3 separate regions of the Homo sapiens genome follow, and all the other regions are linked to region 1. The links come from fine-mapping of genetic effects on gene expression. A gene starts in region 1. Each other region holds a variant in brackets. All regions are shown on one strand. Distances are between the middles of the regions. Region 1 holds the start of PANX1 (pannexin 1). Region 2 overlaps PANX1 (pannexin 1). Region 3 holds the start of LOC105369435 (a long non-coding RNA gene).

What was found. PIP is the estimated chance that this variant, and not a neighbour inherited with it, causes the effect.
Region 2: its variant is the best candidate, but not a certain one, in a credible set for the expression of PANX1 in esophagus mucosa (GTEx, PIP 0.81).
Region 3: its variant is the best candidate, but not a certain one, in a credible set for the expression of PANX1 in whole blood (GTEx, PIP 0.57).

The regions. Positions count from the first base shown.
Region 1 is chr11:94,124,431-94,135,135 of GRCh38, reverse strand. It overlaps PANX1 (pannexin 1), which reads right to left and starts at 6,295. Exons shown (of 5, transcript NM_015368.4): 1 at 5,643-6,295. The coding sequence starts at 5,823. RefSeq lists enhancers at 1,404-1,903, 5,723-5,982, 6,303-6,362 and a silencer at 6,003-6,072.
Region 2 is chr11:94,162,505-94,173,209 of GRCh38, reverse strand. All of the region lies in intron 2 of PANX1 (pannexin 1), which reads right to left. Among named protein-coding and RNA genes, the nearest start is that of PANX1, 39 kb to the right of the region's middle. The variant C/T (reference allele first, on the strand shown) is at 4,837.
Region 3 is chr11:94,192,168-94,202,872 of GRCh38, reverse strand. LOC105369435 (a long non-coding RNA gene) reads right to left here and starts at 5,464. Exons shown (of 5, transcript XR_947901.3): 1 at 2,882-5,464; 2 at 325-476. The variant A/G (reference allele first, on the strand shown) is at 4,195.

The DNA.
Region 1 (10,705 bases):
ACCTGGTCCAGCCAGCCAGAAACATCCTGGCAGGAGACACGGGCTCTCCTTCCCAGGGGATATGTGCCACATGAGGCACCAGGGAATCAAAGCAGCCCCTGACGCCTCAGGCCTTGTACAGCCCTAAGCGCAGGGCACAGGAGGCCCTGTCAAAAGACCCCTTAAACATGAATCCCATTCAGAGTCTGGTCTGTTGATAGTTTTGTCTTCAACCAGGCTGCTGTAAGAAAATCCCACAGACTGGGTGGCTTAAACAACAGTTATTTTCTCACAGCCTGGGAAGTTCAAGATCAAGGTACCAGCAGATTCGGTGTCTGGTGAGAGCTCTTTTCCTAGTTTGCAGATGGCCCCCTTCTCCCAGCGTGCTCACACACCTTTCCTTGTGGCCGCACTTGTGGAGAGAGGAAGAGGGAAGAAGAGAGGAAGGGGGGTAGTGGGAGAGAGAGGGAAAGAGGGAGAGAAGGAGGAAGAGGGAGGGGGGAGAGGAAGAGGGAGGGGGGAGAGAAAGAGGGATTTCTTCTTTTTCTAAGGGCATCCCATCATGAAGGTCCCACTCTCATAATCTCATCCAAACCTAATTACCTCCCAAAGGGATCTCCAATTAGCATCACATTGGGGATCAGGACTTCGACATATGAATTTTGCGGTTGGGAGACACAAACATTCAGTCCATAACTGCAGCACACTAAGGGAATTCATAACTTTAGAGAAATACTTCTAGAATTTCAGAGCTTGAAGGTCACGTCATGCAATCATGCTTATATTCTACACAAAGCTGTCGCCCAGCCATTTCCTAAACCTCTCCCCCCATCAATGAAATGTGCAGCACTTCTAGAGGCATCTGAGAGTAGATGTGTTAGAAATGAAGGGCCTCAAGGCACTGTCTCCCAGCAGCTTGCACAAGGTGACACCCATAGGGTACCCAAGCCACACAGATCACACTCATCCTTCTTCCACAGTACACCATTCTGCACTCTGAACACAGATTCTTCCTCATCACAAAAATAACATAAAAAAGAATCTGAGGCACACGCAATATAACCTGAGCTTATAAATCAAGTGGGACAACTTACCTATCATGACGATGTGCATCCTTTACTGCTATCATCAGAGGCAGGTGTCTGGGAGGTGGCCAGGACAGGCCTGACCCAGGACAGCACTTGTATCATTAAATGGCACTCAGAGGGCGCACTTCCAAGCAACTGGGACCCTTATCCAGAACACTCCGTCCATTCCCTCAGCACAGCCACTCTGGGAGAGTTCCCTAGTGTGCTCTGGCACTTCCTTCACTAAATTCCTATGGAGCACTTGTTGAGGGCAAGACATGGTAGAAGACAAGAGGAAGGAAAAATGAGGGCTGGTGAAACCACTGATTCTCCCTTCTCTGGCTCCCACCACACAGCCTTTCTAGCCCAAACTCACAATTAAACTGTCTTTTGCTGTGTGTCACTTATTTTCCCCCTACCCAGCTGAATCTCAGAGGAGGCACACCTGCAGTATTTTAGAAAGGCTGACTAGAAGTATCAGGCCTAACCAGACAGGTGCACATTTTAGTTCTTACATTCAATCCTTAGTATCTCACTGTCCAAAAGCCTTCAAAATGCTCCCAGGCACAACTCAGAAGAGTCTCCTTGCCACTCCCTCAGGAGGGTTTCTGCTTGTAATTCTCACTATCACAGGGCACATCTGGACCAATGAGTGGCTGCCGCAAAGACTACCAAAGTTGCCTCCACCTTGACCATGGCACCAGCCTTGCCATGCCCCTCCAGACCACATCACTTCTGCAGTGACCCTCAACCTGTGATTGTGGGCAGCCAGACCAAGATCTGGTGAATGAGCAAGGCAGAGTCCCTTCTGCTCTCTGTCCCCAACACAGTCCCCACCAGCCCAGGTAGCCCCACACCAGTGCCTACCATGCAGGACCTGCGTGAACTGCTGTGGGAGGGAAGGGGCCAGAACCTCTGAGGAGTGGACGCTTCACCTGCAGCCACCATGCTGGCACCCAGCAGGGCTTGATAAAGATCAGCCTGCTGCTATGCCCATGGGTCTCTGTGGCCCAGGCAGGCTCAGTCCCTCTTTTCTGAGAGGAGCCCAGTGGGCTGAACTACTAAGAGAAAAGGCCAAAGACCAAACGGAAGCCTTTAATATGAAGCCAAGTATTTTATCATATGAGGACATTCCCTCTCTCTAACCTACAACACTCCCACCCCCACAGAGAACCTGCTCTTAAATCTAAAGCACAATCCATGCACATTTCTTGATTTAATAGATTTTCTTTAAAGTAAAAAATCATTTATTTAAAGGAAAAATCGCCACAAAGTTTCAACTTGAACCCTATTTTATCAAACAACAGTTGACAGAAAATTTAATTTTTGGAAAGTAACTGGAAAATATAATTTATTTTACGCTTGAGGGGATTTTATATCAAAAGAGATGAATTCTTATATATACTAGTTTATCATACAGGTGGAAAAAGGAAAAACATGTAATTACAGCTGATTTTCTCGTTTCTAATTTTATACACACACACACCACCCCCCCAACACAAACAGGAAAACAATGGGATTTGCTATGCCTTCTTTCATGTGGAGCCCCTGGACCCTTACTTTGGCTCCCACCTCTCCATGTGACGGTGCCACTAAAGCTCCAGCAGCCACATGTTGTCTCACACGTCTCAGCTTCAGCCAACACTGCTCCACACACTTGGAATCCTGCCTCAGGGGCCAACTCTGCCCTGAAACTCTCACTGTTCATGAGTCAGAAGAAACCCCTCCTTCTGCCTTTCCACAGCATCAGGCTTTAGTACACACTTCTGACACTGCCCAGGTTCCATGAATCCTGCATTAGGAGGGTTATGCGTTCAACTTCTCTACTAGACCGTGCTTCCAGAGGAAAGATTCTTATGTCCTACGTGTGTCTGACACCCCATTGCCAAGGTACAGCATCATGCACATAACAATCAATTAGCAAGGTCTGATGATGCCAAAAGCTATCACCTTTAATTCACAACAAATGTTTATAGAGTAGTTTCAATCTCCATGCAAAACATGCATAGACAGGTTATAAAGCTCTGTGTTAAGTTCAACAAAAGAGTATTCCAAGCACCAGAGAGGGAAGCAGTAATTATCAACAGAGGAAGGATGAAGCCATGTTTTAAGTCTGCAGGCCTTATCTCAGTGTCTTCCCGGGGCCTGAGTTCACTGGCCAATATGGTGGGCAAAGTGCCAGCTCCATTTCAATTACTTCATTCTCCCTTTATTGCTGTTCTTTTTTTTGGTTTGTTTTTGGCTGAGTGCATACTACTAACTACACAAAATTAAATGCTGCATGACATGATCCCTCCCACTGTACCAACTCCATGTATTAATCTATGTACCTCTCCCCTCTTCTCAAAAGCCCTTCTTCTGGTTTTATCTAAATGTATACCTAATCTAATAGGTCTTCCCTGGTCCTGTTAGCTTCATCCCACATGTCTGTCCTCCCCTGGAACTCCTGAAAACACTTCAGAAAACATGGGAGTCTGCTTGACAGCTCCTCACCCAAGTGCCTGCCAACCTTCACCAGCCTGGAGCTCATAGCTCAACACCTGGCTGGGTGCTGAATTACACACAGCTGAATGACTTACCTGCTAACAGATACCTTCTAGTGCCCAACTGCATAGTAAACTGCCACAGGGCAGGGAGAGGGCAGGGCAAGAACAAGGTCTCAAAATCCTTTCCCATCTCCCTCAGCACACAACAGTGCTATGCACACAGCATGAGCTCAAACTCTTGCTAGTTAAAACCACTCCCAATACCCCAAAAATACCTCTCAGACAGCCCACCAATTTAGACGTATCTAAGGCATTACAGGTACAGGTGCCTTAGGAGTCCCTCTAGTACATGTGCTAGAGGTGGAGATTGGTCACAGAGGGTGACTAACTCCTTCCTCCTGCCTTTCTGTCCCAACCAGGTACCCAAGACTTGCACCTCCAAGACAGGGATCATGCCTCTTTTACTCCCGGGTCCTTGGAGGTCAGCACCGAGTTCAGCACACAGCCAGTACTGAAGGAGGAATTGACCAAAGGGAGAGATTATCTCCAGGACTCATGCTACTTGGTGGTTTTGCTTTCAGCTGGAAGCCTCAATCCACTGTCAAATGGAAACTTAAAGAACATCCCGATGACTATGCCTGCGCAAAGAGCAGGAAAACTAAAAACTATTTTCCACAATGAATTTGGCAACTTCCTGCCAAGCTGAACAACTTAGTGCTGCAGATTGCAAAATCACACTCATAGTCATTCTTTCCTAATCAACTATTCCCTCAACTTCACAATTCCCATCACCACCAACACCACACTCCACTCACCCAGACATACAACCTCCGCAGCACGTTTGACCAGTACTGCCGTTCATGGCCTATTAAATACTAGGTACTCAAGTGCTGCTTATTTACTCCTTGATCGCACAGCAATCACCCACCCATTTTCTTCCACTCTTCACACCCTCTGTGCACAAGACCTCAGCCGATGCCTTGCTCTCTGGCACCCAGCCCTCCAGGCCCCATCCTCTCACCTTCTTCCCAGACCCTAAATGCCACCATCATTCAACCAGTCTGTCCTCTGCTCAAACAATAACTTCACAGTTCTGAAACCATCAGCCTACACTCTTCTGTTCCAGGCTGACCCAGGCCCATATTCACTCTCAGACTCCAGGAACTCTGACTTATCCTCCTGCCTTGGCTAGGAGAGTCACTGTGTCTCTCTTTCCAGGAACATATAACATTCTCTGCCATCTCAAAACCTTAACAAAGGTCTTACTCCTTCTTGTCCAAATCCCACCCACCCTCTGACAAAAGTTTTCCCAAAGTCCAGCCGCACTGGGTCCTCTCTCTTCCCCTGCCACAGAACTGTATTTAACCCTCCTGCGCTACCTTCCTGTTGGTTCATAAACACTCTCTCCTGTGTGGAGAGTCAGAACAGCTGATGAGGAAGGTAAGGCACGTAGCCACGTGATCCTGCCCAAACCACCAGACTTTCCAATCTCACACAACTGTTATGAAGCTCAAATGATAATTTACAGGAAGGGGACTTGTTCATCTCACATTTGTAAGACCGTCCAAGTTGAGGATCCCTCTAATGCCTGCCAAGTGCAGATATTTCCTATCATTCACAACCCTAGAGAGCTAAGATCTCAGCAAATACCAATTATATGTAAGACACTGAAAGAACACACTTCTCATGGAGCACCGGTCTTCACATCCTCCATGTAGCCACTCAGGAACTTCTCTGGTGTAAAATTTTAGGCGGCTGGACAAATATGTAGGAGACAGGGGTGAAAAACGGGGACACAGCTATTCTTGGCAAATCTGGTGGCAAGGTGCCAGTTCTAAGGGTGGAACATAAACTATAAGCCACAGTCCGATCAGAGGGGCATGAGGAACAAAAGAACTGAGGAGTAGGGATGCGAGCAGAGTAGACCAGGGTACCAATGAAACACCTGGGCAAAGAACGCTTTGGACCATAAAACTGGGGCCACTGCCCTTCCTGACGCTCACGACCATCACAGCTGGGCGTACCCAGACTCGGGCCTGTGAGCCGTAAAATCGCAGCTCACCGGGCCAGACCGGGGCGGCCACTCCCCTCCGTCCTGGGCGAGGCTTACCAATCGAGATCTCCTGCGCGAAGGCCAGCGAGATGAGCAGCAGGGGCAGCCCCACCGCAATGCACGTGACCATCTTGTCCACAGCCAGCTCCAGTCGCAGCCCCTTGAACTTGGGCTCCGTGGGCTCCTTCAGCAAGAAATCCGAGAACACGTACTCCGTGGCCAGTTGAGCGATGGCCATGGCTGCGGCGCGCCAGGCTCGACCAGGAGGTCCGGGTACAGCCGGCGTCGGGAAAGCTGCGCGGCGCCTTCACCCAGTCACCGGCCGGGCGCGCGGCTTTCGCTTTCCCTTTGCCTGCTCCCGCATCCCGCCTGCCTTTGTGTCTCGGTGCCTCAGGCTCCCAGCGACTCCGCTGGGCTCTCGCGCTCGCTGCCTCCGCCGCCGGCGGGGCGGGGCGGGGCGGGAACCCGAGAGCTCCGCTTCCTGCGGTTCCACCCCGCACGCCCGTGCAAGTCCCCGGGCCGCGCGCGGCACTCGGATTCGCGCCTCTCCCGCGCACCCCCAGGCGCGGGAACCACGCGCGGAACAAAGCGCTTCCCTCTGGCCCTGCCCCTCCGCGCCGCCCTGGCTGCCGAAGCGGCCGCCGGGATAGCCCTGCGCTCACAGCCAGCTGCGCCGCGCTCTTCCGGAACCATGCGGGGAAACCAAGTACCCAGGGGCGTGGAGCTTCCGGAAGACGCGGTGACGCGGGGCGGGGTGGGCGCGGCTGCATTCCGCGCCCCTCGGGCCACTCTCTGACAAAGGGATTTTCCCACTGAGCGGCACCTTTGGAAATTCTCCCGTCCCTCCCTGCCGGATTCTCCTCACGTCCTGGCACCCGGGAGTTTTAAAATCATTTCTGCAAGCGACTCTTTCTGTGGATGGGATGGCCCCCTTTACGCCCCACCCCCAACATTTCCAACACGGTGAAATCGGGTTAGAAGGAGCTGCAAAAGCTTCAAAGAACAGTCAGTGCCATAAAAGGCCAATCGAGCGGTGTAGACCGACGGTGCCTTGCAGAGGGAGCGCTGGACCCTTCCAGGAGCTCCGCGTGAGAGGGTGGCGCGGAAACGGTAGTGAGTGTGGAGTTTCGAGGCCTGAGTAGCGCTGCTGGTCCCGTTTCTCTTTCCTCTGCCATCCCAATCAGAGCCTTGTTCCGGGAGCCAGCAGAGAGAGGGGGGCCTGCAGGTAGGTGGGTGTTGGGGCTGCAGAGAGCTGCTTCTGAACAGCTCATAGGAAGTGGATGATGGAAAGACAGGAGGAAATACTCTGACCAGTGTCCACGGAAATTAAGGCTGTTGAAGTAGAAATAATTTGATTTATTGGAAGCTAAATGTGAGGATCCACCCAAGAAGACTTACCAGCAAAGTTGGGCATGTTTCAAAATTTGTTACACGTTGGAAGGGTTTTAGAAGAAAGTTTAGGAAAAGGGAGGAGGACCCCTTATATCAGAGGTGGGATTTTTTTCATCGGAGGGTATGGTACACAGGTTACAGTCACTGGCTGCAGATGACAACATACAGGCTAAAATGTTTTGTGCACAAGAAAATCAAAGTTTATATGATTCAGAAACAAGTCAGTGTTCTTTTCAATGTCAGTATTTTACATACTAATCAGTACATCAGCAGTTTGAGGAACTGACAAAAGGATTTGAAGGACTCACAGTAAGATTTTTTACTCAGGGACAGGATCTAAGCCATGAATCATAAGACCTTTCTTAGATGGCTTAGTTTGGAAGCCCTGTCAAATGTGACATGTAGGTTATCACCAGTAACATTTGAAGCAGGCAGGACCTGCAAACATGAGGGCTCCTTGGGGCAGGGCTTGGCTCCCTTCTCTGTGGGTCCACAGATACAAGCCTCAACTCCCACATGTACCTCTCCACCCCAGCCTGGCCGCTAAACACACATCCAAGAGCGTATACAGCTCTCTCCGCGTAGATGGCTCATAGGGCTTCAAACTCATAACGGCCAGGACTTCAGTCTTCATCTTCCCCTTAAACCTGAACTCCATCTTCCCCATCTTACTAAATGTACCACCAGCCACCTGTGCACCCAAGTCGGAATCCTGGAGCACCATCTTCAACACTCCATTTCTCACAGCTGCCATAACCAATTTTCAAATTCTCTTGCTTCTCTCTCCTAAATATAGCAAATCTGACACCCCTCCACCTGCACTGCCAATACCCAATTCAACTCACCATCCTGTCTCCTAACCACATATAGGAAATATGTGAGACAGGGTCCCCCTCCATTCTCCTCTACAGCTGCCAGGATGAGCTTTTCAAAACTCCAGTCGGATCATCTTTTCTACTTAAAGTGTACATTGTTTTTAGCATAAAATACAAATTTCTTAGCATGGCCTCTGCCTACCTCACCACCAGCTTCACTGCTTTCCTTTCAGTTCTTCAAGTTAGCTAAGCCCTTGGCCTCCTCCAGGCCTTCCCACCCAAAACACTCCCCACAGTGGCCTCTTTGCCTGGCCCACCTTTATTCACCCTTCTGGCCTCAGCTTGATGTCACTTCCCTGGGAAAGCCTTCCCTAAGTAGACAGACTAGATTAGGTCCCTTTGTGAAATTCTCCCATAATACTAGCCACACTAGTTACTAGCTATTAGTCTTGGGGAGTTCTTTGACTCTCCTGTGTCTCAGTTTTCTCATCTGTAAAAAGGTTGTACCTCTTAGGACTGTGATAAGGACCAAATGAGTTAACACGTGGGTAGTGCCCAGTGCCTGGCACCTTGTGAATCTAGGTACATTTCATCTGTCATTGTTCTCTATTTTTCCTTCTTAAAAATAGTCACCATTGCAACTCAACAAATATTTATTCATTTATTTAGTGTTTGCCACCACTTTATGTGATCGGCTTCTTGAGGGTAGGCCCATGCCCATGTGTACCACTTTTATCCTCAACACTTAGCACAAATGCCTCACACAGAGTTGATGTTTTAATTCATATTATTAAATAAATGTCTGAAGGAATCTGAACACTTTTTAAAACTGGCCCAGTTCACACTCATTTATCCATACATTCCAGGCATATATTAGAGGCTGGTGATGGGCCAGTTCTGGGCTCAGTGGATGGGGAAGCAGAAATGAAGTGAATGGATTCCATTTCCTCAAAGACCTTATGGCTTAGCAAGAGAAATAAGGCATGCACACAATTAACTATAATGCAAGGTAGAAAGAGTGATTATTGTGAAAAGTGGGGTATACCAAGGGAGGTGCAGAGAATAAGTAGGGCCTGGGAGAATGTGTCAGTTGGGACATTCAGAGCTGGGACAGGGGCTTTCTGGGAGTCAGGAAATCATGGGTGCCATTTCCCTTCTTTCCTTGCCAAAAGCTAATCATCCGATAGGCTCAAATGGCCCCTTTTTAGGCTCAAATGCCCCCTTTTTAGGAAGCCTTCCAGGATCCTCCAGTTGTAATGAATCCTTCCCTCCCTTGTTACTCTCTCCTCTGGCCTAGAAGTTAGTTCATTTTGCCTCCTGTGATGGGATGATGGATTGTGTATCTCTTTTTTCATTACATAGCAAGTTCCTCTGAGGATCTGGAGTGAATCTCAGCAGTTGCATAAATTGCCCTCAGTTTTGGCAATTTTTTACATTCCATATGATGTTATCCTACTTTTAATGAATTTAAAATAGAAGCCAGATGGAGAACTTGTTGGAAAATAGTGTGTCCGGAATTGATTCCTTCTGGTGGGTTCTTGGTCTCACTGACTTCAAGAATGAAGCCACGGGCCCTCGTGTTGAGTGTTACTGTTCTTAAAGGTAGTGTGGACCCAAAGAGTGAGCAGCAGCAAGATTTATTGTGAAGAACAAAAGAACAAAGCTTCCACAGCATGGAAGGGAAGCTGAGCAGCTTGCCGCTCTGGTGGCCAGCTTGTATTCACTTATTTGGCCCCGCCCACATCTTGCTGATTGGTCCATTTTACAGAGCGCTGATTGGTCCATTTCACAGAGTGATAATTGGTGCATTTACAAAACTTTAGCTACACACAGAGCACCGATTGGTGCATTTTTACAGAGTGCTGATTGGTGCATTTACAAACCTTTAGGTAGACACAGAGCGCTGGTTGCTGTGTTTTTACAGAGTACTGATTGGTGCGTTTACAAACCTTTAGCTAGACACAGAGCACTGATTGGTGTGTTTACAATCCTCTAGCTAGACAGAAAATTTCTCCAAGTCCCCATCTGACCCAGAAGCCCAGCTGGCTTCACCTCTCAATCCCCCCTCTAAACAGGACACCCCAACTGCTGTTGGGAATTGGGTGATGACTGCTCTAGCTACTTCCTGCTGGATAGGAGCAAAGAAGGGGCCCTGCAGTTGTAGTATCCTCCAGAGGGGAACTCTTTAGGCCAGTGAAAGGACCAGCGGGTCGGTCCAGGGGTCCTCGGTAGAAGTTGTTAGTTGAGCTCATTTGGGGTTCCATTGGTAAGACCATCTGTAGCTTGATGGCCTCGATCCTAGAGGAAACAAATTTAACAAGGAGTTTAAAAATACAGGGCCCGAAGGCAAGTAATAGTAAGATGGCTGCCATGGGACCTAGAAAGGGGAGAAGCCATGTTGCCCAACTCCAGAGGTTGGTATAAGAGTTTGAAAGGCATTGTCTGATTTTGGAAGCCTTTTCCTGTAAACGCCAGGTGGCATATCATACTATCCCTGAATGGTTAGTGTGAAAACAACACTCTTCCCCTAAGAAGGTGCACAGTCCTCCTTTCTCAGCAGTGAGGAGGTCTAGGCCTCGGCCGTTTTGGAGAGTCGCTGCTGCCAAAGAGTCTATTTGGGATTGTAGAATAAGGATAGATTTCGTTATCTCTTGCAAACTGTCTGAGAAATCCTTTGAGAGTGTGTGGTAGTAGGATAATGAAGTAGATAAACTGACTATTCCGGTTCCTGTAGCAGTAGCCATTCCTAACCCCATAAGTAGGGGTATTAGTTGTATGGCTCTGCACTAACAGACTTGAGCTTTGAGGGGTACTGATAGGGTCTGATTTCCTGGGGAAATGTTAATGTCGGGACTTAGAAATACTAAGGTGCAGGTGCCTTCCAGTTAGTGGGGTGGCAGATATAGTTCAACA
Region 2 (10,705 bases), 38 kb before region 1:
AAAAGCAGTCAGAAAGTAGGAAGTAGGTAAACCAAGAACATCCTGCACTGGGGAAGTGGAGTAAAAAGATGCATGAAGGATGTCTGTTCTGGCTATATGCTGTTCAGGTAATACCGCACTTACAGACAATCCTAGACAGCGGGAGTCAAGAGTGAACAGCTACCCCAGAAAGCTAATGTGCACTCCCTGAGAAGCTTACAGAAGGCAGAAAATACAGATGGCATGGCTTCTATTCAGCACCAAAGGTGCTGTGGTTTGCACTGGGTGACATTCTGGAGTGCAGCTGGAGGGAACCCATCATGGGGAGAGCCCTGGAGAAGACAGCGAGCAAAGTATCTGTTCACAGAAGGAGGAAAAGATGCCTACCAAGATAAGTAGAACCAAGTGACAAGGAGCAGCCTTCCCACGGATCTATGAAATGCAATGAATTGTCCTATGAGGCAAGGAGCTCCCTTTCAATACAGTTTGTGATCATCTGGGAGAGCTTGAGTATTCCAGATTAAGGGTCCATAGGGTTTTCTTGTAAAGGGCCAGAGAGTAAATATTACAGGTTTGAGAGCTACATGGTCTCTGTTGCAGCTGCTCAACTCTGCCATTATAGTGCAAAAGCAGCCACAGATAATGTGTGAACAAATGGGGCACAGTTGTGTTCCAATAAAATTTTATTTACAAAAACAGGTATGGACTGATTTGGCTCAAGCATGTGTGTCCTAGTCTGCCAACCCTGGCTCTGGATTCTTGCTTCTCAAAGAGTGGTGTGGTCCATAGACCACAAACCTCAGTTATCACCTGGCAGTCTGTTATAAATGCAGAATTGCAGGTCCCTATCAGACCTGCTGAATCAGAGCCTAAAGTTCAACAAAATCCCCAGGTGATCTGCATGCACAGAGAATTTGAGAAATGGTGTAGATGGGTGGTGCCCACATTGTACGGCAAGATGGGCTCACATCAGAATCTCCTGGGAAGCCGATAAAAACCACATTCCTGACCTTAACCACAGAAGCTCCAACCTAATGGCCTAGATGGCCTCGGGAGCCTGAATTTTCACAAGGCCACTCTGGCAATGCTAAGGTTTGGAAGCCTCTGGTCTGAAAGCCTCAGAGGATTCCTCCAACCAAGTTTCTATGAGTCTACTTAAGAGAAATAAAGATTTGCCCACTCTCCTAATTTTGTTCTTGTTTTTCTTATTGTTTTTTTCAGTCAAAAACGGACTTTCCTGTTTCAGAGAGAAATCTTACTAATAGTTGCCTCCCGCATTCTAAACTTGAACAAAGGGAACAGAACACTCAAAGGAAAAAAAAAAGCCAGTTCTCAAGCAGTGTTAGAGCGCCACCTACTGGGTGCCCCCCACCCCCCGAGACTGTACCCACATCTCCAGCAAAGGCCTCACAGTGTGTCCTTAGAGGTCATCAGTAGTGCATGGAGTGGGAGAGAAAGGGAGGAGGAAGACAGGGAGAAATCAAAGTCGGTTGGAGAAAAATGACACCATTGATCATACCAGTGTCATACCAGTGCTGACTTAAATATTACACTGAATAACTTCTTTGGGGTAACTGAGCTCTCCTAACTTCAGCATCAGAATTAAATTGAGAAGTGCTGAATAAACCCTGTGCCTCTAATCCCCCATCCTTTGTCAGGATGCTCCTGGAGAACCAAGTCTGGTTCTGAACAGGACACACAACTACCTCACTGCCCTCTTCCCTTCCGCATATAGTCTTCAAGCACCCACTATGGACTACGCATTGTCTCAGGGGTACATGGATAAACAAGACATGGTCATGGTCTCTGCCTGCATAAAGCTTACAGTCTTAAGAGATAAAGAATTAATAAAGCAGAATTATGGCAAGATATTTTCATGTCAAGCTTCCATTTTATTTGAAAGTGCTTGGGGAAGGCCTTGGAGGGCAGGAGGCAGAGACAGGGAGTGGGATGCCTGAAGTTAGTTTCAAGTGACAGCAAGTTCAGAATGAGGTGGCCACAGGAACTCATGATGGAGATGGAAATGGAAAGGAGGTAAAAGTTCTTGCAGATGAGACAGAGACTGAGGCTAGATGTGCCATCCAGGAGGACACAGAAGTCACCTTGGGGTGGTGAAGGAGGATGAGCATGACTGAGTCCTGAATGAATGAGGGGTGACTGGGAGAATGACAGCAATGAGGAGGGCATGGGGAAGGCATAGCCAGTATCCAGAACAGCTAAGGAACTGAGTTTTCTATGAAGAAACAGTAGCAAGGTAAGAAATACAGGCATGGGAAGAAATTACGCAAGTCCATGAGCACGCTGAACTAAGGAACTCCTGGGTCAACAGTGGGCTCCCCTGCTGGACAGCAATTGTGCCAGAAAGACTCTCCTTGTGTTGAACTGCAGCTCATCAGCAGGTGACCATCACCTACAGGCTACAGTCCAGAATTCTCAAGCCACAGAAGTTAGAACTGGACCTTCTCACATGGGAAACATGTCTGAAATCTGAAGAAGGATGTGGGCTCACCTGCCATCTGGCTGTGCGACCTCAGAAAAGGCACTGATCACTCTGGCCCTCGGAGCCTGAATGAGAGGACCCTAACAGCTTAACAGTCCCGAGTCTGCTCAGTGTGGAGAAGCCACAAGAAAACCTTTTCATCTTTGAAAGAGAATCCAGCAATTCCACTTTGGGGTATGTATCCAAAAGAAACAAAGTGAGGACTCGAACAGATGTTCACAGCAGCAATATTCACAATAGCCAATAAGGGCAAGCAACCCAAGTATGCGCTGATGAACGGATAAACAAAATCTCGTACAAATTTACAATGGGATGTTATTCAGTCTTAAAAAGGAAGGAGATTCTGATGTATGTCACCACATTAATGAACTGTGAAAACATTTTCTTCAGTGAGATAAGCCAGACACAAAAGGACAAATATTGTATGGTTTCACTTATATGAGGTATCTAGAATAGACAAATGCAGAGAGACAGAAAACAGAATGGAGGTTGCCAGGGGCTGGGGGGATGGGGAAATGGAAAATTACTGCTTAATGGATGCAGGTCTCAGTTTGGGAAGATGAAAAATTCAGGAGATGGGTAATGGCGATGGTTTCGCAACAATGTAAATGTACTTAATGCCACTGGGCTATATACCTACAAAGAGAAAGGTAAATTTTATGTTATGTATATTTTATCAAAAAAGAAAAAGAAAAACTTGAAAAAGAGATCAACGTAGAAATAAAGCAGCTGCGATTACTGAATCTGGCCTAAGAAAGCCATGCACTAATATTCCTATCTGGTATAGGTTTTATTTCTCCAATTAGGCTGAATCTTCATTTCTCTCTAACTCCTGGCATTACCAACCAAATCCCACAAATTTGATGGCTTAAAACCACAGAAATTTTTTCTTTCATGGTTTTAGAGGTGAGGAGTTCAAAATCAAGGTGCTAGCAGGGCCATGCTCCCTCCCGAGTCTCCATGGCAGGATCCTCCCAGCGTCTTCCAGCTTCCAGTCGCCCCAGCATTCCTTGGCTTGGCTGCATAACTCCAATCCAGCCCCCTGTGGGCATGCGGCTGTTTTCTCCCTGAGTGTCTTCATGTTGTCTTCCCTCTGAGCATGTCTGTGTCCAAATTCCCCTCTTCTTATGAGGATAGCAGTCATACTGAGTTAAAGGCCCACCCTACTGCAGTAAGACCCCATCTTAACTAATTACATCTGCTATAATTATATTTCCAAATAAGGTGTCACAGTTTAGGGCACACTGGGTTAAAACTTCGACATATCTTTTGGGGGACACAATTCAGCCCATGATACCACCCAAATGTAGAGTTAGCCTAAGTCTCAGTCCTCACCTTACTCGCACTCTTGGCAGCATCTGACACAGGTTATCACATTGACACCATCTTTCTTTACAAGATACCCTGCCTTTCAAGCATACAGCACACTGTTTAACTTTCCTCATCACCCCACCTCTCTGTGTCTCCTCTGTTGACTGGTCCTACCCCACCCTCTCTCCATGTTGGAGCAGCCCTCAGACCTTGCCCCTGTCTACATATAATCACCCCCTAAGAAACACCATCCACTCCTATAGCTTTAAACACTATCTATTTTCTGACAATCTGCCATATCTATAGCTCTATTCTAGCCTGCAATCTCCAGATACCATATCTCACTGCCCACCTGACACATCATCTGGACCACAGCACCTGATTCAACATGTTCAAGCAGAACTCTTTGATTTTCCTCCAAAATCTGCTTCTTCACCAGGCTTCTTCAAGTGTCATGAAGGTGTCATTCCATCCGGTGCCTGAAACCTTGGTCATGTCCTTAATCCTGATCTTTCTCTCATCTTCCCATGTCCAATCAGCACATCTTGTTACTTCCGTATCTTAGAAAAGATGCCCTGAGTCTTAGAAAAGATGCACTTCCCACCTCCACTGCTGTCACCCTAGATCTCAACTGCTGTCACTCTAGACCAAGGATCAGCAAACTGCTGCCCCTGAGCCAAATCTGGCCACAAGCAATCATGTCTACTCTGCAGAACTAAGTAGCTGCGACAGTGACCATGTGATCTGCAATGACAAAAAAACTTTATGATCTGGCCCTCTGCAGAAGTTTGCTGACCCTGGTCTAGGCCCTTGATGTCACTTTCGACTATCCTTTTGCGTGATCTTCTAATCAGCAATAAGACATAAGAGTATTGCTTTTTGTTTGCTCTTTGCCTTCTTGGACAAAACTGCTTCTTTTCCTTTCTGTTCCCTAATTAGAACCCTCACTCTGTGCTTACCAAGTGGCTCTCCCTGCCTCTATTCTCTCCTGTACACCATTACTGAGGCTTAACTCTTGGAACCGCCAAGTTCACCCTGCTCAGGTA[C/T]CTGCAATGGCTCCCGCTGTCCCCAGCATTTAGCCCATCCATCTGGTTAGTTTTCAAAGTCCCCTGTAACCTAGCCTACCCTGCATCATAGTTAATCAAGGCCCCAATGCCCCCAACAGGCCACGCCTCCCCCAGAAAGTGCTTCCCACCCTCCCAGACAGTGCTTTTTTTGTGCTTTTGGGCCTGTATTTTCCTTCCAGTTGTCACCCAGCTTGTTCCTCTCTCTTCTGGTTATCAGGAAGAGAGAGTTTATGAAAAGGGAAAAAAAATTGTGAAGAAATTGTCTAATCATCTTCATTTCCTTACCTCCCATTCACTCTTCACCACAGCCATCTGCCTCCCACTTCTCCACTAAAATCATTCCTGCTGGATCCCCAATATTTTCATTAAATCCAGTAAGTTGTATTTCTCCCAGACTGCACTGGCTTCTCTGCAGCAGCATTTAACAGAGTTCACTACTGTCTGAAACACTCTCCTTTTACCATTTAGCTGATTATTCCCTCTCACTGCCTTCTTCCATGTTTATTTTTTCCACTAAACAACAAGCTCCTTGATGAAGGGACCATGTCATCTGTGGCTTTCTGCCACTGCACATACATTCCAGCATATGGTAGGCCCTCAATCAACGTTAGCTGAAATCAACTGTGACTAAATGTTTTCAGCTCAAGAATTTCTATTTGATTATTTTGGTGCAGTTTTCAGTCAGTTCTACGTAAAAAATCTCCATATAATCATAATTCTTTGAATATATGATTAATGATTAGTTAAAATGCATGGTTGATCAATCCACTATCTGGATCTCCAACAGGTTTGTTTCTATTTCTGATTTTTCTCTTGGTTTTCTTGTACATCTAGTTATTTCCTAGTGAGTGCTGAATATCATATGTGAAAAACCTGAGCAAGAATTTGACAGTACATAAGAGGAGGCAGAGCAAAATGGCTGAATTGAACCCTCCAATGATTGACCCCCATTAGGAGATAGACAATATAAAAAGATATAAAGTATCCATGCAAGAAAGCACCCTCCTAAGAACTAAAAAATCAGAGGAGCAATCACTGTACCTGGTTTTAACATAACAACGAAAGTGGCATTGAAGAGAGTAGGAAGTACGGTCTTGCACTGCTTACACCACCCCTCCCCTAAACCCAGGCAGTGCAGTCTGGAGAAGAATCCGTGTGCTTGAAGGAGGGAGAGCAAAATGAGTATGCGACTTTGCACTGGAACTCAGTGCTGCCTTGTCAAAGCCTCACACAACACCAGGCAGACTTCTGCCAGGTCCCACAAAAGAAGCATTTAGACCAGCCCTGGGCCAGAGGGGAATCTTCTGCCCCAGTGGGAGAAAAGTGACTCCTGCTGGCTTCACCACCAACTGACTAAAGTGACTTAGGGCCCCAAATAAATCTGAGTGCCAATCAGGACATAGTAACTGTAGGCCTTGGACAAGCCCTGGTGCTGCACTGGTCTTAGAAGCAGTGGGCTTGGGATGTGACCCAGTACGACATTAACTGTACCAGCCATGGGAACACCTGCATCACCTCTCTCCCAACTCCAAGCAGTGCAGCTTGGGGAGAGATCTTTCAACTTGGGCAAAGGAGAGGAAAGAGTACAGAGGATACTGTCTTGCAACTTAGATATCAGGCTCAGTCACAATAAAATAAAGCACCAGATAGATGCCTGATATAATATGCAGGTATGAGAAGGTTAAAGGACACAAAGAAGACTCAACCCAAGCAAGACTACCTCAAGGAATACAATAATCCAACTTTCAAAGGTGAAGGACAAAGAAAGGATCCCAAAAACACCAGGTGAAAAGATGCAAATTACATATAAAAGAGTTCCAAGATATCTGGCAGCAGACTTTTCAGTGGAAACCTTACAGTCCAGGAGGGAGTGGGATGACATATTCAAAGCACTAAAGGAAAAAAGCTTCCAACCTAGAATATCATCACCAGCAAAGTTATCCTTCAAACATAAAGGTGAAATAAAGACTTTCCCAGACAAACAAAAGCTGAGGTATTTCATCAACACTAGAACTGTCTTACGAGACATGGTAAAAGGAGTTCTTCAGTCTGAAAGAAAAGGATGGTAAGGAGCAACAAGAAATCATCTAAAAATACAGACTCACTGGTAAAAGTAAGTACACAGACAAATACAGAATACTCTAACACTGTAATTGTGGTATGTAAACCACTCATACCTTAAAATGAAGACCCTAAGGTAAACGTATCAAAAATAATCATAATTACAAGTTGTTAGGAGATACACAATATAAAAAGATATAAAGTGACAAGAAGTCGAAAGCGAGGGGGGGATGAAGTTAAAGTCCAGAACTTTTTAGTTTTCTTTTGGCTTGTTTTTTTATTTTCATTGTAATTGGAATTAAGTTATCTTCAGTTTAAAATAATTGGTTAATAACATAACCAATAATAATAATAATAGTTATTACTATTATATTACTTGAAACAGAGTTTCACTCTTGTTGCCCAGGCTGGAGTGCAATGGTGCGATCTCAGCTCACTGCAACCTCTGCCTCTTGGTAAGTTCAAGTGATTCTTCTGCCTCAGCCTCCCGAGTAGCTGGGATTACAGGCATGCACCACCATGCCTGGCTAATTTTGTATGTGTAGAAGGGACAGGGTTTCTCCATGTTGGGCAGGCTGGTCTTGAATTCCTGACCTCATGTGATCTGCCTGCCTTGGCCTCCCAAAATGCTGGGATTACAGGCATGAGCCACTGTGCCCGGCCACATAACCAATTATTTTAAACGGAAGATAACTTAATTCCAATCACAGCCTCATGTGCAGCCTCATGGCAAACAAAGTAAAAGCCTATAATAGATACACAAAAAATAAAAAGCTGAGAATTTTTAATTGGAGCATTTAGCCCATTTACATTTAAAGTTAATATTGTTATGTGTGAATTTGATCCTGTCATTATGATGTTAGCTGGTTATTTTGCTCATTAGTAACAAACCTGCACGTTGTGCACATGTACCCTAAAACTTAAAGTATAATAATAATAAAATTAAAAAATTAAAAAAAATAAATAAAAATAAAAAGCAAGAAATTAAAACATACTACCAAAAAAATCATTTATACACAAAGGAAGACAGAGAAAAAGGAAAAAAAGAGAAACTAACAAAACAACCAGAAAACAAATAACAAAATTGCAGTAGTAAGTCCTTACCTATCAATAATCACATTGAATGTAAATGAACTAAATTCTTCAATCAAGAGAAAGAATGGCTCACTGGATAAAAAACCAAGACCCAACCAAACGCTGCTGACCAGAAACTCACTTCACCTATAAGACACATATAGGCTGAAAATGAAGGGCTGAAAAATATATTCCATGCAAACAGAAACCAAAAAAGAGCGGGAATAGCTATACATGTATCAGATAAAATAAATCTCAATACAGAAACTGTAAAAAGATAAAAAGTAAGTCATTATATAATGATAACGGGATCAATTCACTAAGAGGGTGTAACAATTGTAAATATATAAGCACCCAATGCTGGAGCACTCAGATATATAAAGAAAATATTATTAGAGCTAAAGAGGGATAAAGCCCAATATAATAATAGTCGGGAACTTCACGCCCGACTTTCAGTATTGAGCAGATCATCTAGACAAAAAATAAAGAAATATCAGGCTCAAGCTACACTGTAGGCCAAATATACCTAACAGACATTTACAGAACATTTCATGCAATAGCTGCAGAACATTCTGCTCTTTAGCAAATGGAACATTCTCACAGATAGACCACATGTTAGGCCACAAAACAAGTCTCGAAAAATTCAAAATAATTGAAATCATAAAAGTATCTTTTCTGACCACAAGGTCAGAAATCAATGACAAGAGAAACTTTGGAAACTAAACACATGGAAATTAATATGCTCCTGAATGACCACTGGGTCAATGAAGAGATTAAGAATAAAGTTTAAAAATTTCTTGAAACAAATGAAAATGAGAACACAACATACCAAAACCTACTGGATATAGCAAAAGCAGTACTAACAGGGATGTTTAAAGCAATAAATACCTACATCAAAAAAGTAGAAAGACTTCAAATAAACAGCTTAATGACAGATCTTAAAGAACTAGAAAAGCAAGAGCAAATCAAACACAAATTCAGTAGACTATTAAAGAGCAGAAATAAAATTGAAACCAAAAAAATACAAAACATCAATAAAATTTAAAAGTTGGTTTTTTGAAAAGACAAAATCAACAAACCTTTAGCCAGACTAAAAAAAAAAGAAAGACCAAATAAATAAAATTAGAGACAAAAAAGGAGACATTATCATTCATACCACAGAAATTCAAAGGATCACTAAAGACTATTATGAGCAACGATATGCCAATAAATTGCAAAACCTAAAAAAAATTGATAAATTTCTAGACACATACAACCTACCAAGATTGGACCATGAAGAAATACAAAACCTGAATAGACCAATAGCAAGTAACAAGGGAGAGGCAGTAATAATAAGTCTCCCATCAAAGAAAAGCCCAGGACCTGATGGCTTCACTGCTAAATTCTACCAAACTTTTAAAAAAGAACTAACACCAACCCTACTTAAAGTATTCAAAAAAACTGAGGAGGGAATAATTCCAAACCATCCTTAGAGGAGGGAATAATTTTATAAAGCCAGTCTTAACCATGACACCAAAATCAGACAAAGACAAGTAAAATTATAAGCCAATACCTCCGATGAACACAGATATAAAAATCCTCAATAAAATCCTAGCAAACTGATTCAATAACACATTAAAAAGATCATTCATCACAACCAAGTGGGATTTATCTTAGGGATGCAAGGATAGTTCAACATATGCAAATCAATAAATTTGATACATCACATCAACAGAATGAAGGACAAAAAGCATATGATCATTTCCATAGATGCCAAAAAAGCATTCAGTAACAGTCAACATCCCTTCATGATAAAAACCCTGAACAAACTGAGTACAGAAGGAACATACCTCAATATAATAAAGAAGACTTACAACAAACCCACAGCTAGTGTCACAAAGAATGGGGAAAAACTGAAAGCCTTTCCTCTAAGATATGGAACAAGGATGCCCACTTCTAACACTTTCATTCCCTGATTTGCTCATTATACATTCTATGCTTATATCAAAATATCACATGTAGTCCACAAATATGTACAAATATTATGTAACCATAAAACTTAAAAATTAAAATAAAAAGTAAGAAAAATAAGCCAGGTGTGGTGGCTCACGCCTGTAATCCCAACACTCTGGAAGGCCAAGATAAGTGGATCTCTTGAACTCGGGAGTTTGAGACCATTTCTACAAAAAATAACAAAAATTAGCCACATGCAGTGGTGCATGCCTGTAGTCCCAGCTACTTGGTGGGCTGTGGCAGGAGGACTGCCTTACACCCAGGAGATTGAGGCTGCAGTGAGCCATGTTTGTGCCACTACACTCAGGCCTGGGTGACAAAGTGAGACCCTGTCTCAAAAAAAAAAAAAAAAAAGAGAGGTTGGTGGAGCCAAGATGGCCGAATAGGAACAGCTCCAGTCTAGAGCTCCCAGTGTGAGCGACGCAGAAGACAGGTAATTTCTGCATTTCCAACTGAGGAACCGGATTCATCTCACTGGGGAGTGTCAGAAAGTGGGGGCAGGACAGTGGGTGCCGCGCACCCAGCGTGAGCCGAAGCAGGGCGAGGCATCACCTCACCCGGGAAGCGCAAGGGGTCAGGAAATTCCCTTTCCTAGTCAAAGAAAGGGGTGAAAGATGGCACCTGGAAAATCAGGTCACTCCCACCCTAATACTGCGCTTATCCAACGGTATTAGCAAATGGCACACCAGAAGATTATATCCAGCGCCTGGCTCGGAGGGTC
Region 3 (10,705 bases), 68 kb before region 1:
GCTTGTCTTTCTTGGGTTAGGTCAGACCCTCATGATTCTCAAGCACCCTAAGCCACCTAGCAGAGTTCTAAGCAAAAGGTTGCTTCCCTGACCCAGCAAATCCTCAGTTTCTTTGTCTGAAAAACAAGATGATTAGACTAGGGAAGTATTTTTCAAACTTGAAAGGTTTTGTTCATAAAAACAACTTAGACTTAGCATTGACAACCATTTTTTGTTATATAATGCATTTTTCACATCTGTTTGCTTGTCTTTTTTTCCCTTTAGTCTGTTCATGTTGCCGTAATGAAAATACCAGAGACTGGGTGGTTTAAGCAACAAACTTACTTTCTCACAGGTCTGAAAAAGGCTGGGAAGTCCAAAATCAAGGCACCAGGAGGTCCAGAGCTTGGTATCTGTTGGGGGGCCACTTCTTGGCTTGTAGAAAGCACTCTGCTTTCTACCTTACTTGTATCATTTCATTCATTTCTCCTAGCAACCTAAAGGCACAGATATTATTCCAATTTTACAATTGAGGACACAGAAAGTAAAAGACTTAACTAAAGTTAAGCCTAATCAGTGAAATAACTGAGATTTGAACCCAGGTCTAGATTGAGCCTAAAGTACCAATACCCATAATCACTGTGTAGGCTGCTTCTAATGGAATTTTCCACATCACAGGTGCCCTCATCTCCCGTCTCCATTGCTTTTTTTCATCCAGATTTACCACCATTTCCACCTTTGTTTTGGAGCTTCTTGCTGTCCCTTCACAGGGAAGGGAAGATGGAGAGGAGAGAGAGATAAATACATTTTATGCATATCCATATTCCCAGCCTATTGCACAGTCCCTGGCACACAGTGGACATTCAGACAATATTTGATGAATAAATGAACATATGTATAAATGAGTAAAGGAATGGATGGAAGACTGGATGGATGGATGGATGAATGGATGTCTGAAACAATCAGGAGAGTTGCTGAAGATGTGGGAATAACCCATGATGTCGTGGTAGACGACCTCTTATACCACAGGACGAGAAGTGATAAAGAAATGGAATATGAAGACCTTATTCCAAAAAAGCATAGATGTGGCAATGGCATGAAGCCATCAATGAATGTAGTGATATCTCAAACAGACCGCACTTAAAGTTTACTTGTCTAGCCAACACATATTAATAAGCATCCATTATGTATATATGAGTGCATGTTGGCACTGTGCTGGAAGCTCCAGAATCAGAAATGAGTAAGACACAGCTTGTACCCTTAAAAAATTCTTGGTTATGAGGACAGACAAACATATAAACAGAATTTTTACAATACAGTCAGTCTAAAACAGAATGTATCAATCAGTATAGGTCAGTTAATACTACAGTAACAATCGACAACTTTCAGTGTTTTTAATCAACAAACCTTGTCCTAAATGTTCATGGCCTCCACTCATATAATTCTCACTCTAGGGCCCAGGCTGACATAGCAGCTGTTGCTGGTTGCTGTGGCAGAGGGAAAGGAACCCTAGTACACTGTGCCTTAGCTCGTAAGGAGCATGTCACTTTCACTCATGTTTGCTTCATCAAATTCATGTGGCCATATTTAACTCCAAAAGGGCTGGGAAGAATTTAACTCCAAGGGGGCAAAGGGAACACTGGAAGCATCTGGTAATTATTAAACAGATGTATAAATAAACTGCACTGGGAGTACACAAAAGGGCATTACTATGAGTGAGCAGCCAGGGTCCTGTTCAAAGAGGAGCTGCCGTTTGAACTGAGTCATGAAATGCATGCACTCGTCACACTGATGCACAGGGTCTAGGAGGTTAGTCTACAGGGAGGTCAGTCACCTTCATGCTGTCTGGAGGTGCCCCAGGGGTCCCTATCATTGTGCAGTGTACAGTGACAAAACTCCATCTGCAGTATGTGTGGTGGTTTCAGCTTCACTGGAGACATTATGATGATGCTGAAAATTACTAATTTTTTTTTCTTTTTTCTTTTTTTTTAGACAGAGTTTCATTCTTGTTGCCCAGGCTGGAGTGCAATGGCTTGATTTTGGCTCGCTGCAACTTCTGCCTCCCAGGTTCAAGTGATTCTCCTACCTCAGCCTGCTGAGTAGCTGGGATTACAGGTGCCCGCCACCACACTCAGCTAATTTTTTTTGTATTTTTAGTAAAGACAGGGTTTCACCATGTTAGCCAGGCTTGTCTCGAACTCCTGATGTCAGGTGATGCACTCACTTTAGCCTCCCAAAGTGCTGGGATGACAGGTGTGGCCATCACTAAATGAACACTTACCCTGTCCAGGGAGGTTTATTGAGGCAGAATGCTGGGCAGCTCAGTCACAAAGGACCACAAGTTTCGACTATGACATCATGTTCAAACAATTTATAAATAAAATCACAAAGATTTCCTGAGAAGAAGATATTTATCATTCAGACTTTGTGTCTAATTTCTAGACACAGAGTCATGAGGAACCTTGAATTAATATTTTCTAGAATTCCTATAATCTTGCATTGTATTTTTGTACTAAAAAAGTGATAATTCAAAAAAATGTATACATAAAGCTCTTCCTCAATTTATGTAATATTGTTGCTATTCACTTTCTATCTAAGAGCCTTAAAAAATGGGAGGTCTGCATCCCTCTTGGCCTGGGCAAGGCTCCCGTAGGTACCAGGCACTCTGCTTTCTAACTTCCTTGTATCATTTCGTAATTTCTCCAGGCAACCTAAAGGCACAGTATTATCTCAATTAAAACAAATGAGAAAATGAAGGCTGAAAGGCTTAATTAACCTTAAGCCTAATAAGTGGAGGAAGTGAGATTTGAACCCAGGTATAGCTTGATCTAAAAGCCCTGACACTTATAATCACTGTGTAGGCTGCTTCTGATGGAAATTTCCACATTGCAGGGCCACTTACCCTCCTTGTTGCTTTTTTTCACCTGGGTTTACCAACATTCCCACCTTTCTCTTGGAGCTTCTGCTTCCAATTGCTCCTCCTGACCCAGATGGAGGTGGCAAGCTGGGAGAAGCAAGCACAGAGAGTCAGCATTTTGTCAAGCATAAAGTCAGGAAGGAATCCCACTGTTGTACTAGAATCTGATGGTTTCCATAGCAACAGAATCAATCAATCAGTTAATCAACAATAAATTGTTGAGCATCATCCATAAACTCAGTTCAGTGTTGCAACTTGAAGGGCAAGGAAGAGGGAAGAGGGTGGGAGCAGAATTATGAAGATGAAGGAGGCACGGGGCGAGCTGTGGGTGTGGGCGTGGGTATGGCTAGTTTCCTGCACCAAATCTGTGCAGAGAGGCCAGAAGTTGGCTGTGATTCAGAAAGGCAGATGGATATCATTCTGAGCTGCTGCTCAAAACTCTAAACCCCAGAGCCACTGTTGGTTGATCCACTGTGTTCAGGTACTTTTACAGAAACCCTGGCAGCTCCTGAATGTCAATAGAGGAGGAATTAGGGGCAGCCATATAGTTGCTTGAGTGTGGGCTAAAGGTTGTGTTGTGAAACTGCATTTATTTAGAAAGCATACTGACTTTTACTTAAATTTAAATTTCAGATGGCCGGGAAGTAGGCGGGTCTAATCAGGAGGAATTAAACTACCCCCTCCCTGTTCTTGACCAAAGTATTTATTAAAGACCTCTTAAGCACATGTCACTTTGCCTTTTCAATGTGGATTTTAAAAGCAGAACAAAGACTGAGGATAATTAAACATACTCTAAGGAATGGTGAATACATTCATAACAAATATAAATTGTAAAAATTGAAATCTACCAGCATTACTACGATGCAGCTCTGATGGCATCTCCAGTTCCTTCTCACTAGGCAATGGGTAAAGTTCTCAGCAGGGAAGGCTAGGACCTGGTCTTCTGTTGCTCTCACTGGCCCACAGCAGTTCTTGGTGGCCCTGTCACTTCCTTTGTTCACAGATGTCATGCCAGTCATGGAGTTAGCTCTCTCCCTGTTAGTTTTAAGGGAGAGAGCTTTTGCCAACTGTATTTCCAGAGCGCTGCCTACTTCTGCTGCCTGCTGCTGTGCAGATCCCTGTTTAAAGACTGGAAATGAGGAGGCAGGAGAGCCAATTCTCAAGCCCCAACACACATAAGAATCACCTTCAGAGCTTGTGAAGAATTCATATTTTGGGGCCTCACTGTCAAGATTTACTGAGTCGGAGGAGGGGTCAGGAATCACTCTCCAAACACCTCACAAGATTCTGAAGCCTGC[A/G]GGACCACCTCTGGGAAACACTAGTGTGCATGGTGGTTGGGAGAATGAATTCTAGTCAGGGAGGTCTGTATTTTCACCTCTCATATCTTGTCCTCTCAATTGTAAAATGGGGAAAAGAGCACCTTCCCTTGGGAGGCCAAGTGCCACCCCAGGCCCTGCAGCTAGTAAGTGGCAGAATAAGGCTTGTACTTGCTGGCCCTAAAGTTGCATTTAACCTCGATGTCAGAGTGGGTCTAAAAGCTGTGATATGACTCCTCCCCAGGTCTCCAGCCACCGCAGGCCAAGTGGGGTGTCATGTCCATGAGGATGATAAAGAACATATGAGTAGTGCTCACCACAGAGGATGTACTCAGAAAATGTGTGATGAATAGATGATCAGACAATAATTACAGCGGCATCATTTGTGGAGTCCCTTCTCTGGACTGGACCCTCCACTAGTGCTTCTGAGTCCTGCCCTGGAAGTGGGCCCCACTATTTGTCTATATAGTGACCACTCATGTGACAGCTACCAGCTCTCCCCCTCCCTACCTCAGGACAAATTAGGGGATATGACGCCCTTCATCTAGCTTCTTTCCCCCTCTACTCTACCTCCGTACCCTGTCTCAGAACTCATCTTCCTCATCTATAAAGTGGGGATAATTGACCCTCTTTTTCCTGCTATTGGACTACAAAATGAGACGACGTCAGTGCTATGGACCAAATGTATGTGTCTCACCAAAATTTATATTTTGAAGCTGTAATCCCCAATGTGATAGTGTCTAGAGGTGGAACCTTTGGGGGGTAATTAGATCATGAGGGTAGAGCCCTCATGAATGGGATGAGTGTCTTTTAAGGAGCAGCCAGGGAGTGAGCTAGCTTTCCCTCAGTCACGTGAGGATACTGTGAGAAGGCATCCCTCCACAAACCAGGAAGTGAGCTCTCACCAACAACCAAATCAGCCAGCACTTTGATCTTAGACTTCCCAGACTTCATACTGTGAGGAATACATTTCTGTTAAGTCACCCAGTCTGTGGTGTTCATGTTCTAGCAGCCCAAACTCACTTAGACAACCAACATAAAGTGCCCCCTCCACCATAAAGGATGTTTCTGACCCCTCTGGCTCCCTTCCAACTAAGGATGTGTATTAGTCCGTTTTCACGCTGCTGATACATACCCAAGACTGGGAAGAAAAGGAGGTTTAATTTTACTTACAGTCCATCATAGCTGGGAGGTCTCACAATCATGGCAGAGGGCAAAAGGCAGTTCTTACATGGCAGTGGCAAGAGACGATAAGGAAGAAGCAAAAGCGAAAACCCCTGATAAACCCACCAGTTCTCGTGAGACTTACTCACTATCACGAGAATAGCACAGGAAAGACCAGCCCCCATGATTCAATTATCTCTGCTGGGTCCCTCTCACAACACCTGGGAATTCTGGGAGATACAATTCAAGTTGAGATTTGGGTAGGGACACAGCCAAACCCTATCAGAGGGCCAACCACATTGGCAGCACTCAGCCCCAGTTCAGGGTGGGCTACACTCATGGGGGTGGGGTGCACAGGGCCATCAGGGATGCCCAGCCCTTGAGTCAGGGTGGGAAGCCAAGATAGTCCAGTGGGCCACAGCTGGTGCTGCCTTGTTGCTTCTGTGAATGTACGTGCCCTCTCAGAACACTGTCTTTTCTTGGAACTGGTGAAAGGAGCTAGAAATGTGTGCAGGGCACCAGGCCTCTAGCATGGCCTATAGTGGGGGTGTCCTCAGGGACCTTCATTGTTCCTTTGGTTCCCAAAAACGCCACTAGATCTTCCTAATAAACAGGTGTTGACAGATTCTGATCCTTCTGGAACAACTTCCCCTTCTCCTAGCTGTCTTCTGCTGGGTCCCCCTGGTTCAGTGCACAGGCAGGCAGTACAGCACAGGGCAGGGATTCTCAGATGTTGGTATGTTTCAGAGTCACCAGGAAGGTGTGATAAATGCACATCCCCAGGCCCTGCCCCAGAGGTCCTGACTCAGTGGGTCTGTGGAGAGGCCCAGGAATCTGCCTTTTTAACAAGCATGTCCACATATTCTGATGCAAGCAGTCCTCTGGTCACAGTTAGCACTGACATGACTCGGGTTTTCGAGTCAGGCTGGCCCAGGATTAGATCCTGGCCGTGTGGTTTGGGCAGGTCATGGAGCTCCCAGGCTTCTGTTTACTCTTCTGGGGAGGGTGCCAACCTACTCATTATTACATAGTAAGGGGTAAACTAGTTCATTTAGACTGTGTGCTTTAGCAAAGCACCTACCACAGCAGGTGCTTTGTGAAGGAAACTTTTCCTAGGGCCAGGAGACTTCCCGCCTGCCCCCTAAGCCTGTGCACCACCACCTGAGTGCATGTCTCTTCTGATGACATGATGGGGAGTTATCTGAGGGCAGGTTGGTTGTCGGCTTGTTCTGGGGGCTGCAGGAAGAAAGAGGGGACCCCAGGGTGGAGGTGAGCTAAGAAGAGAGAACTTGTGAGGTGGAGGTTGCAGTGAGTCGAGATCACGCCACTGCACTTTGGCCTGGACGACAAGAGCGAAACTCCATCTCAAAAATAAAAAAATAAAAAAATAAAACATGAAAATACGGTAAAAAATTACTGAGAGTTCTACTGTAAGGCCAACAACAGATTCTAATAAAATAACCAGAACTAATATTAGGCTTCACCTGTGCCAGGCATTGTAGTTGCTGACATCTGTTCCCTCTTTTAACCCTCACAAGAGTCTTCTGGAGTAAGTGATATTATCATTATTTCTTGGTTGAATATTGTGTTGTTAGAAGATCAAGGAAGTTCTTTAAGTTGTGCAGCAAAACTGCATCTGCTGGCCTTCAGAGCCTCTTTAAATCCAGTTGAAAAAGAATTCCTCAAACTAGTGGCACTTGACCAAAATGTTACATGTTGATAGAAAAATATGCTTAAATATGTGTCAGAAAATTATGATGCTCTTTCCCTTCTGAAACAATTCAGTCCTAAAATCATTAAACAGGTGACCAAGGCAGCTTGGTGCAAAGTATAAGACCTCAAGACGAGCAAGGAGGTGGACACTCTGGTGATAACCGTGACTCTGCTGGGCAGTCCAGACTGGGCTTATGAAAGGCAGCAATGCATGGAGGACCCTCACTCCATAGACAGTCAAGCATTGCATAGTGATAACATTTCGGTTGAGGACAGACTGCACATACAACATACCTTATTTTTAAGGTATTACTGCACCTTTTCTACGTTTAGAGTTGATAGATACACACATACTTAATGCTGTGTTACAGAATTCAGTACAGTAACATGCCGTACAGGTATGTAGCCCAGGAGCAATAGGCTGCATCATATGGTTATACGATCTAGGTTATAGTAGCTAGGTTTGGGTAAGTTCTCCACGATGTTCACATGACAGAATCACATAAAGAAGCATTTCTCAGACTGTATCTACATTGTTAAGTGATGCATGACTATATTTCTATATTATCCGATTTTCTTTTGCAATAAATGTATACTCATCAATAGCTTGCATCATCTTTGAAAATTAAAACTAAAACTAATAAATGACAAAAGAGAAAGGAGTAGAAAATGAGAGGAGCCAGTGGCCTGTTTTGGGATTCACCTTCTGCCACCCCAGCCAGGCAGGGCAGGATGAGCTGGCAGCCCTGGCCCGGGGAGAGGAGCGCTGAAGCAGGCAGAGTGTGTGTCTCCGGCAGTGCCCACGCGGGTTTGCACAATGGCCCTGGGGGCTGGGGTTCCCTGGGTAGCTTCTCCAGCCTCCGCTCCAAATGCTCGGGAGGTTCACACCCACAAGGTCCATCTGGCTGTTGCCCGTGCTGAGTCAAAGATGTTCTTGAGTCATTCCAAAAATGCCCACGGCACCTTCACAACTCTGCCATCTTTGCTGCCACTCACACAGGGCCCAGTGACAAAACCTGGGGGTTGAGGGTAGGGTGTCTCGCTGCTCTTGGATGAGGTCGAGTTTTTCTGTCTTAGCAATAGCCTTTCCAGTATCCTTTCCCAGCTGAATTCGCCTCCATTGGGTTCTGAGCAGCAGCTCGAAATGATGTCCTTTTCACTTAACTATTGTAAATGGGTTTCTATTTGAGGTAAGATAAATAGCTATTGTTGAGCTCCTGTAGAGTGCCAGGTACATCATTCTCATTGAATCCTCACAACAACCCTGAGGAGTAGACACTGGTACAGGGAAAACATTTTAAGTGACTCACTGGGTCACCTCTTGGAAGTATTAGAGCTAAGACTCCAAACCAGATTTTCTGATATCAAAACTCAAATTGGGCTTTCTCAATATGCTAAATCGCCTGTCTGTAATGCTCCAATAGTTTGGGATTTTCTCGTTTTTCAAACATGGCTTACGATGTGAATAAAGAAAATGCTGCTAGACTTAAAAAAGACTGAGGGATTGAGTGTTTATTATGTGCCGGCATTACGTTTACTGCCTTTGTTTAATCGACTTCAGCCCTCGTCAAAATCCATGACTTTCTGTCATACAGGAGGGAACTAAGGCCCAGAGGAGTCAAGAACTCAGGTCACGCAGGTCAGCGGGCAGCCTCAGGCCAGAACTCAGGCAGCTTGTCTTGAGAACCCATTCCCTTAATGTCCCTCACCCCAAAACTAAAGGAACATCCTCACTGGATTGTGAAGATTTAATGAGCTAATATGCACTGTTTAATGCCTGGCATGTAGGCACTCAACAAATACTAATTTCCTTCCTTCTTTCCATCTGGATTCCCAGGGATCTAGTGTGGGACACGATGAAAGAAGACATAGACCACAGAGACACAGACCAATAGATTCTAGAGGTTGTTTAGTCCAAGCCCCTCACTGGGCAAATGGCTCAGAGAGGCGAAATTATAGATGGAAACAAAGCTTTAGGCTTTCTTGGTCTTCCTTTTCCTTTTTGCCACCATAATTCCCAGCAAACTCCATGACCCCAGAGGCTTGCTGGATTTTTCACCTTAATATGCCCAATACCAGATAGCAGGTGTTTGAAAAACCCTTTGTTGAATGAATGAATACCAACTTCACTCTGCAACTGAGTCTGAAGTCATGAAGGCTATTTCCTCATGAGTTTCCTATCTAGGGAAAAGCCCACCAACCCTTGGTTCCCTGCCCCAACCTGATCAATGCTCAGGGATGACTCACTGGCTTGAATACGAGCCCAGCTTCTCAGTTGATGTGCTGCACAAAGGCCATCCTTGGGCCAAGTGGGAGATGAATCACCTGGCACAGATTGCAGGCTTGGAGGAAGGCACAGGATAGTGAAGGGAGCACTAGGCTGGGAGAAAATAGGGTATGAATTTTTCTCCACTTAGGCAGTGGGAGTCTATGACTTAGAAAGCTCATCTGATGGGAAAACTTTTGGAGGGACTCTACCATGTGCTCTTATTACATTGCTTTCTCCACTTCACAGGTTAAAGAATGAGCACCTGTAGTTTGCTCTCAGAGGGGTGAAACACTACATCACCCACACACTGACTTTCAGCTTCCATCCATCTCCCCTCAGCTTGCTGTGTGCTCAGCATGTTGCTAGACTGAGGTTGGGGTGGGGAGGTTGACAGATTATTTGCTCCTACTGTTAGGTTGAGTTGGCGACAATCTCCTTAACTTCTGATGGTTCCTCTTAGTAATTTTCCATCCAATGACCCCCATCCTGCTTCTTGGTTATAAATTTCCACTTGCCCATGCTGTATTCGAAGTTGAGCCCAATCTCTCCCACTGTGAAATCCCATTGCAGTGGTCCTGATACCTGTTGTGATGGTCCTGAATAAAGTTTGCTGTCCCATGCTTTAACAAGTGCATCGAACAACTTTTCTTTAACAAAGACTACTAAAAAGGCACTAAGATGCCTGAATTTAACAGACTTGTAGCCTTTATGAGAAGGACTAGCAGCAAAACAAAACAAAATAAACATCAATAATGACAATTAAGGCAAGACAGTGTGGGCACTGGGGAAGCAGCCCAGTTCTTACTCGTTTATTTCAGATAAAAAAGCCTCAAAGGGAGGAGGTAGTTAGTTTGCATCACTGTGAGCAGGCGAGAATATGCATCCAGTTAACCAATTCTGCTTAGAGGGCAACTTAATCTTGCAGAAAGGAGACCGATCTCTAAGGGAAGAGAATTCCAGGCCAAAAGAAAGACACTGACAAGGACACAGGGACAGTGAAGCACTTCATTAGGTGGGAACAGATGTGCATAAAATAGTCTGGCCAACCTATTCCGTCCAATATGGTAGCCACTAGCTACATGCGACTATTGAGCTGTTTAAATGAGGCCAGTGTGAAATGAGATGTGCTCTAAGTAAAACATACACACTGAAATTAAAAAACTTAGAATGAAAAGTAAAATATCTCAATATTTTGTATCCTGAGACTTTGTTGAAGTTGCTTATCAGCTTAAGGAGATTCTGGGCTGAGACGATGGGGTTTTCTAAATATACAATCATGTCATCTGTAAACAGGGACAATTTGACTTCCTCTTTTCCTAATTGAATACCCTTTATTTCTTTCTCCTG